Homo sapiens: one gene and its partner. The protein of the gene in region 1 purifies or fractionates together with the protein of each later gene. This does not show direct contact. Each region holds a gene or a part of one and is shown in the gene's direction. Other genes may lie near its edges.

The links.
Region 2: the proteins of SH3RF2 (region 1) and CCDC50 purify together in Homo sapiens (affinity purification with mass spectrometry, with the first as the bait; one study listed by BioGRID). This does not show direct contact.

The regions. Positions count from the first base shown.
Region 1 is NC_000005.10:145,939,480-145,943,304, forward strand, and holds part of SH3RF2 (E3 ubiquitin-protein ligase SH3RF2), read left to right. Parts: intron 1-3,825. UniProt on the Homo sapiens protein: Has E3 ubiquitin-protein ligase activity. Acts as an anti-apoptotic regulator of the JNK pathway by ubiquitinating and promoting the degradation of SH3RF1, a scaffold protein that is required for pro-apoptotic JNK activation.
Region 2 is NC_000003.12:191,395,179-191,399,269, forward strand, and holds the end of CCDC50 (coiled-coil domain-containing protein 50 long isoform), read left to right. Parts: 3' UTR 1-3,481; downstream 3,482-4,091.

The DNA.
Region 1 (3,825 bases):
CTGCATCTTTAAACCACCCATGGCGCATGTGTAAACATTCAACAATGAGGGTGGGAAGAAGCAGGACATTTTTTCACTGTACACCCTTGATTTCTTCACTGTAGGCTTTTTATTGCCATTGTGCTTGTAAGTGACACATTCCAGAAAAGGGTTTGGAACTCTTTTTAAGTCCCTCCACTACCCCTGGTCTAGTCATCAATCAGAATCCACAGGTCTGGAAATGGCGAAGTAGGGGTGGGGAAGCAAATTGTTCTCAAACATGCCTTGTTTGTAGAGAAAAGAGCTCTATCTCTGGGTCAGCAAATCCCCCTTGAATTCCTAAGACCTAGCAACCTCTTCCCTTCCCCACCTTGCAGAAGTCTGACCTGCCTTTCAGCGGAGTATCATCACTTACTCAGGAAACGGTGTCACACTGGGAGGAGGCAGTTCCCTTATCAGCTTGGAATATTTTTGTTGTGGTTTACATCTTTCTCAATGTGACTGTGTTGCAAAGGACAGGTAGCGATGAATGGATCCACAGCTACCAAGTTTTTGAACTATAGAGGATTCTCAGGGCCCTTCTGGCACAGGGAATTGAGGTGAGAGCTGGTTGTACATAAGAGACAGCCATTAAGATACTGGGTCTCTCTGGAATTCTTTTGCAGGGACTTATAACATCAGACTATCGTCTGTGCCCACCCTCCAAGCTGCTCTGGACCAAGTCCTGTGGTGAGGCTGAAACTCAAGGGCTCCTGTGTTCAGGCAGGACCTGGGCTAGAAAGATGCTCTGCAAGAGAGCAGAGCTGGCACCCCCACTTCCCAATTCCTTTATGTCCTAACTATCCTTTCTTGAAGTGACTCCTCTCATTCCTTTTGCCTTCCTCAGTGGGGATATGAACAAACCTATTTCTGGATGTCAATATGGCTGCTGTTCTGCAACGTGCCTCTGCTCCCAAAAATATTACCTATCTTTTTTGCAACCATGAAAGCAACCATGCATCCCACAGTTAAGAGAACTGAGGGTTGTCTGGATGCCACAGTCTGTTTAGAGAGTCAGAGGAATGGACTTACATCCTCGGTCAAATCCTCCTGAGTTCCTTGCCCTCTCTGCCACAGTTCAGCCAATCTAGTCAAAAGCTACTTGCTACCCACCTTCCTCCAGGATAGTGTGAAAATTATCTTTGCAACATACTTTTACTGCCTTAGAAAACATCTGCTATGTAAATGCAAAGCATCATCATTAAGATTCATTTAGACATGCTGTATGACTTTGGGCAAGCCACTTATGTTTGCTGGGTCTCAATTTAAAATTCTGTAAAATGGGAAGATGTCATGTATAAAAACAGACAGCTACTGTGAGGTTTAACTAATTAGTATCTCCAAAACACTTTGAGAGCCTTAGATGAAAGACATTTGGAAGATCATTATCACAGTGAACATTATTATTGACTGTTTATTGTGCCCTGCCACACATGAGGCATGCTACAAAATGTAGAAGGAGTTACAGCCCTTGCAGGAGAGTGTAATAGGTATTATTATTGAACTTGATTCTATGATGAGCTCAGGCCAGGATAATACTAAGTATAAAGTACTCCACTCAGAGAGCATAAATAACCTGTTGTCACAGGGCACCATTTTGTAAAACACCTCTTTCAAAGGACTTGCCGATAACCTGGCACCCTGAAAAAGTTCGTTTAACTTTCTGTCCATGAGCTTTTGAAGCCCAAAGTCTGTTCTGCTCACCTAGACTCATCTAAAAAACAAGCTCATCAAGCTCTTTTTGTTGGCTCAAAGAGGCCTGATGCTTCCTGTGCCAACCAGTGTTCTAGGGTGGAACCAATAGTCACACCTCATGGTGCCAGCCCATAGAGAGAAAAAAATTGCCTATTGTGCCTACATGTCTAAAACCCTCCCTAGATGATTGTGTAAAAAGAAAACTTGAGAAACAGCTGTAGGTTTCTGCAGTGTGCATTTATTTCAAACCAACAGGCAAGATCACCAGACTCCTCCAGGAAGAGGTCCTGGTGGTGCAAATTCCACTGGTTCTTCTTATTCCTTCCCTAATACAGTTAAAGCAAAGGAACTTGGCAAGCCTTCAAAAGGATTGTAGGTTCCTGAATAGCTGATCTCTCTTCTTCCTCATTCTGCTACACTTTAGTAATATTTCTGATTTAGGATAGGTGGTAAAGCAGAGAAGTTATGAATCTGTGGACTTGGGTTTGAGAAATACCCAAATTCAAATCCTGACTCTGCCCCTCAACAGTTCTGCACTTTGGGTGAGTCACTTAAACCTCAGGTCCTCCAATTCCCCATCTGTAAATTGGAGATAATGGTAGTACCTACCTCAGAGGGTTGTTGTGAGAAATAAGTGAGATGATTCATGTCACTTAGCTCTTAGCACAGAGACTGGCTCATATTAAGTGCTCAGTAAATGTTAGCTGTGGTTGTTGTTGAAGTGACTCAATACTTTCTACTCTAAATTACACACACCCTTTCAGCCCCTTATTAAGCAAGTGCCATCCAGAGACGGTCCTTGGTACCCTGATTTTTGCATTGTTTTGTTTGCCTCCACATGATCCGTGGCCATGATTCAGATGTGTGATTCTTCCCAGCATGTGCTGGCTTCGCAGCTCACTTCCAGAACCCTTAAGGCACTATGATCCATTCTAGGAGAAAACTCCCTAACTAACTTCACTTTCCCCAAACAGCACCTTCAAAGGAAAACCATACACAGGGCAAGAACCTGGTCTACTTCCTCCGCATCATCAATTCTTTATTAACATTTTTATCTTTCGTTTTTTCCTGCTTCTCACTCTATTCCCCAACACAAATATTGCCATGGGTTCTGTAGGGATGGACTTTCTCCCTACCTTGCTAGCATCATGCCAGTCACACACGTTTCTGTCTTACTTGCCCCTTATCAGCAAGAACACACCTGCCACCTCCAGCACACAGACCAGGTGGCTTTGTCCTAGAAACTTTTCAGCTGGTGTTGCAAGCAACTGATGGGGAAAAAAAATGAGGTCAGAAAACATATCAGGGAATGAGGCTGGGTAGAAACCAGAAGGTGGACTAGCCCCTTTCCTGAGTCTCAGAGGTTGTGTCCTGTAATAGAGCTGTGATACAGACAGTGGGGTTTTTGCTAAATTTGCAAGGGGATTAAAATCATCCCAGGCCCCTGAAAACAGCAGATAGGTGCCATCTGGGACAGCAAGGACCATATGTAGTAGGTGGAGGAAGACATAAAGGTAGGGGCTAAGGTTGAGAAGTCAAGAGACCCAGATGGTTCTCCAGCTTCACACACATTTACAAACATTTTTAATAACCACATGGCCCCACACTGGCACTGCCTTCAATCTCTCTCAGTGTACCTCTTTTCTAGTTAGTCTCCTCTCTTTTATTGCTTACTGTAGCATTTAAGGATTTATGGTGAAGTGGGCTGTATTTGTGCCAGGATTCAATTGTTTGTTAGCTGTGTGGCCTTAGGCAAGTCACTTAACCTCTCTGATCCTCAGTTTCTAGACTTATATAATAGGAATAATAAAGGCATACTTATATCATACAGCTATTGTGAGATTAAAATGATTAAAATGAGATTAAAATGATATACATATATATAATATATATAAAGAGCTTAGCACAAGTGCCTGGCATATAACAGAAGCTAATAAATGTTAGCAACAGTAAATAACAAAAGAGTAACAATGGAAGAGAAAGTCAGCTGGCACTAGAGTTCTTTGCACACACACAGAAACATGCAGGGATCTCCATTAAAAAAAAAAAAGGAACCAAAGAGTACTGCAAAAGGAAAGGGAGTTCTCAAAAAGACAAAACTGTAGTGATGAG
Region 2 (4,091 bases), on another chromosome or scaffold:
ATTCATTAACCCCGCTTTTCTTCTCTAATGTGTCCTGAAGCTGAGCTAGATGATGAGTAAATTCTTTGCTGACTGTTGCTCATCACTTTCTCTCAAAGTTAGAACTTTTCAGTATAAAAATAATTAGCTTTTAACTGATTATTAATTTTCTTTAATAGTTTCTGTCAAAACTTGTCTAAAATTTGTGTTGTGCCAAATTGGAAATACCCACTATAATATGGTGCATTCAGTTTACTCCACAAGTGGTTAACATTTTAAGTCCTAGATTTTTTATGTCTTGCCTTTGTATAAGCATCGCTTTGGGGAATACCAAGATGATTCATTATTCAGTGATTATTTTCTTGAAAGATAACTATGATGATTGGCTGTAAAATCTTCACCCTAATAAAGGAGTGAGATCTCTGTGTAAACAGCTTTCTGAAGGACTGATAATAGAATAGAACTTGCAGCCAAAGGCTTTTTCCCTTTTGAGAAGACGGTATTTGTGTAAGGAGTGCTAAGGTAGACTTCATTGTACATAGAGTGCCATATTCTGTTGAAACGATCATAACAAAATCAAAACCTCATGCTTCAGCAAAAAGGAAAAAAGATTTTTAAATTACTTTGTCTATTACTTACTGCTCATAGAGAAGTGACTATATAAAATGGTCCAATTTTCTCATTTCTGGTGGTGCCTGTGAGTCTTAAAGCCATATCTGCTTATCTTACTGTTGATAGAATACTTTTTTTCTTTTTAGCCCATGATAAGTAATATGGGCAGGTAGAAGCAAACTGGAGACTGTCCTGTTAATGCTGCATGGGGCACAATGTCTTTCAAATTATTGGTGGAAGAATCTCTTTTATCCATGGCGAGAGGTAAGAATATTAAAGAGTCAGGATATTGTTGCTCCTGGTATTTAACAACTGTCATTAGAAATGCTGAAATTTAATTGTAGAGAAGTCAAGAAAGAAAGAGTAAACTGAGAAAATCTTACTACTACAGAGTCACTTTTACAATGAGACCTGCACTTTATGCCAGCACTGTTTGTGAGGAGCAGTACTGCCTTAAATTAGTTTGACTCTGACTGATGTCAGTGTACGTTACTTCCTTTATGTGACTGACAGTCAGCTTTCCATTGAGATATAACATTCACAGATGATCCCCAAGTATCCTTGTCATCAGAAGCTTTGGACCTTTTCTGCCACTGACTTGTGGCTGATCTGTAACACAATAAATACATAATTTTATTTCATGTTGTCTGTCCACCTCTGAATAAGCAGTGGCATGACCAAAAAGACTGGTAGAAGGAGAGAATTTCTTGGCCAAATCCTTCATACCAGGTACCACTTCTTGAGTAACTGAGAGTTGACTGTCTTCTATGGTGACTACATAGAAGATATTTCCAAAGGTTCTGTTATGCAGTGAAGACATTCAGATTATTTGTAAGAATTTCACCAACACCCTTGTGTATTGAAATGCTTAACCATTAACAGGGAAAAAAAAGGAGAAAACCGAACAAAACAGAGACATTTACTTGAAATGGGAGGTTTGCTAATGTGAAGAGTGTTTCTGTTTTATTACTTATAAGAGAAAAGCAGGAAAACTTTTGCTTTGATAAGAAAGACACCAGAGTGGTGATTCTGTTTGATGCCACAGGCTAACACAATCGTGTAATCATGTTGAGTTGTAGAAATATATGGCCCTAAAAACCATTCTCTTTCCCTTATATATATAAATATGTGAACACTGCCTAGTAACATTTTAATAGATTTAAGATGCATTTGTACATTCTCAGCAAACTAGAAGAAAATGTTTTTTCTCTTTTTGAGTTAACTTCATAGCATAGAGAACCAGCACTGTGCAGGTTTCAGCATTTCAGATAAGGGCATAATTAATTGTGTAACTTAATGCCCTGTTATTCATTGCTGAGGTTCATATAAAGAATAGAAAAATTGAAAGATGGGTTTGGGCGACATTTTCTTCCCAAAAGATCAAGTAAGGAGTAAGAACAAGTAAGGGAAGACAGCTAAGAGAACATACTATGACATATCATAGAATTGGGATACATTTTTGTTGCACTGGATTTCAGGCTATACTGCTAAAATAATTTCTACCTGTTAAATTTTGTGAGAGGGTTTTTGACATCAGAATTTTTGTATTTCTGGTCAAATTGGTCTTGGAAATCCCTATGGTCTCTAATTTCAGCTCTTGCTGTAAACTGCAAGCCAAATGCTCTTTCTCAGAAAGAGCTATATTTTTCTCTTCTTACAGGCAACCCAATATTTATTTCATAAAGTGTTATAAATATTGAGAAGATACACTGGGGAGATAGCATATAAAAATGATGCTCCAAAATGAGAATTCTATATGGGGCTTTCCCTAAGAAGAATCCATCCCAGCACATATTTTGAAAAGGTGCTGAATTAAAAAGTACAAGAGTTTGCTCATATAAATCAAGTTGCCCAGGAAACCTGAGGTGATGCTATCATTTGTCTCATAATTTAGAAACGTGATCTCTTGAGAGAGAGACTACGCATTGCCTGGGCACTTTCAGATTCCTTAGGAAGTGCCCCTTTGATATTTGGAATGTGGATATATTTATAAAACAAATGGATTGTTATTCCAAATCCACATGGATTTATAACCAAGCCCCAGAAGAATAGGCAGCTTTGAAATAGCTAGTTCGTGGAATTGAACAGAACCTTGATGGAATGCAGTTGCCTGTGTGAGGACAGAAAACAAAGAGGCTGCCTCAGACCACATGCCTATCTAGAGATTAAGTGAATTTGTGAGGGACATTTTGTGGATGCCTTAAAGATGACCAGTGGTGGGTTCTGATGGGAATATATACACTCATCTGGACTAGGCCAATGGAAGCAGTCTCTTTCAGTTCACCTCCGTACAGCACAAGTTGTTCCTGCTCATGACCTCATTGAGGAAAATGAGAATTGTGGTGCTGGTGACTTTCATGTGTCTTGGGAGGTTGAGGTGTTCAACATCGTTAAGGCACTCCCAAAACGCAAACCTCCTTTTTTAAATGCCAATTGTACATCTACATTAATTCATCTATGCAAACTTGTGTTTTCATGGTTTGTTTTTTACACTATATTTCTCATTAGGTTCTTTAAACATCAGGTTTAATATTGATATTATGAATAATTTTTAAACCAAAGTATTCTATAAGTCTGTGTGCTTTGTTTTCCTGGATGGTTTGACCAAGGTAAACATCAGTCTTGTCCTTCTCTCTTAATAAAGTCATCCATTTGTTAAGTCAGTGGTCTCTGTCTCATGTTTTTGTTTTGTTTCTTTACAGCATTCAAGGACAGGGAAACTTACGAGAGTCTTATTATAATTATTATTATTTACAAAATGACCCTAATAGGTCTGTTTAGTAACAGTGAAATTTTTTCTTACTCCATTTCCATACACTTTCTGTAAATATGTATAACATGATAATGATGCCTGGTGTATTGAAATCCTCAATAAATACTGCCAAGTGTGGATCAGTTGGAGAAGTAGCTTTGTTTTGTGTGTGGTGTTTCGTGGTTTGATTGATATATTTGGGAGGAAAAAAAACAGGTAAGTGGATGTTCACACAATAATTCCAGTGATTAAAGACCCCATGCACAACTCTGCACTATACCTGACACCTTGTGGACACTTCAATGTATTTTGAGAAATGGATATTAATAACTGATTTATTCAATATTTTACCTTCATAAGAATTTTTTTTTTCTTATTTGGTTTGATAGAATAGCCACAATGTAGGAAATGATTCTGCAAAAATTAGGTATCTTAAATATAATATTTTCAATGACTACTAAATTTATTTTTAAAGATGTCACTATTTAGCCACCCCTACAGTAGATTCTCTAGGCCTCAGATTCCTCTGTGGCAAATATAGCAGGAAATCTAAATGATTTCTGTAGTCTCTGCTAGATCCTGAGTAGTACCAGTGATGTGCAGGTGATACTGTTTTATTTAGTTGAAGATTAGTATGTTGATTTCAACCTTTGGTCTCTAAATAAATACTAAAGTTGCCAGTGGAAAAAGTTGATGCATCTAGAAGCCAACTAAAAAATTAAATATGCAAGTAAAACAGATCCCTTTA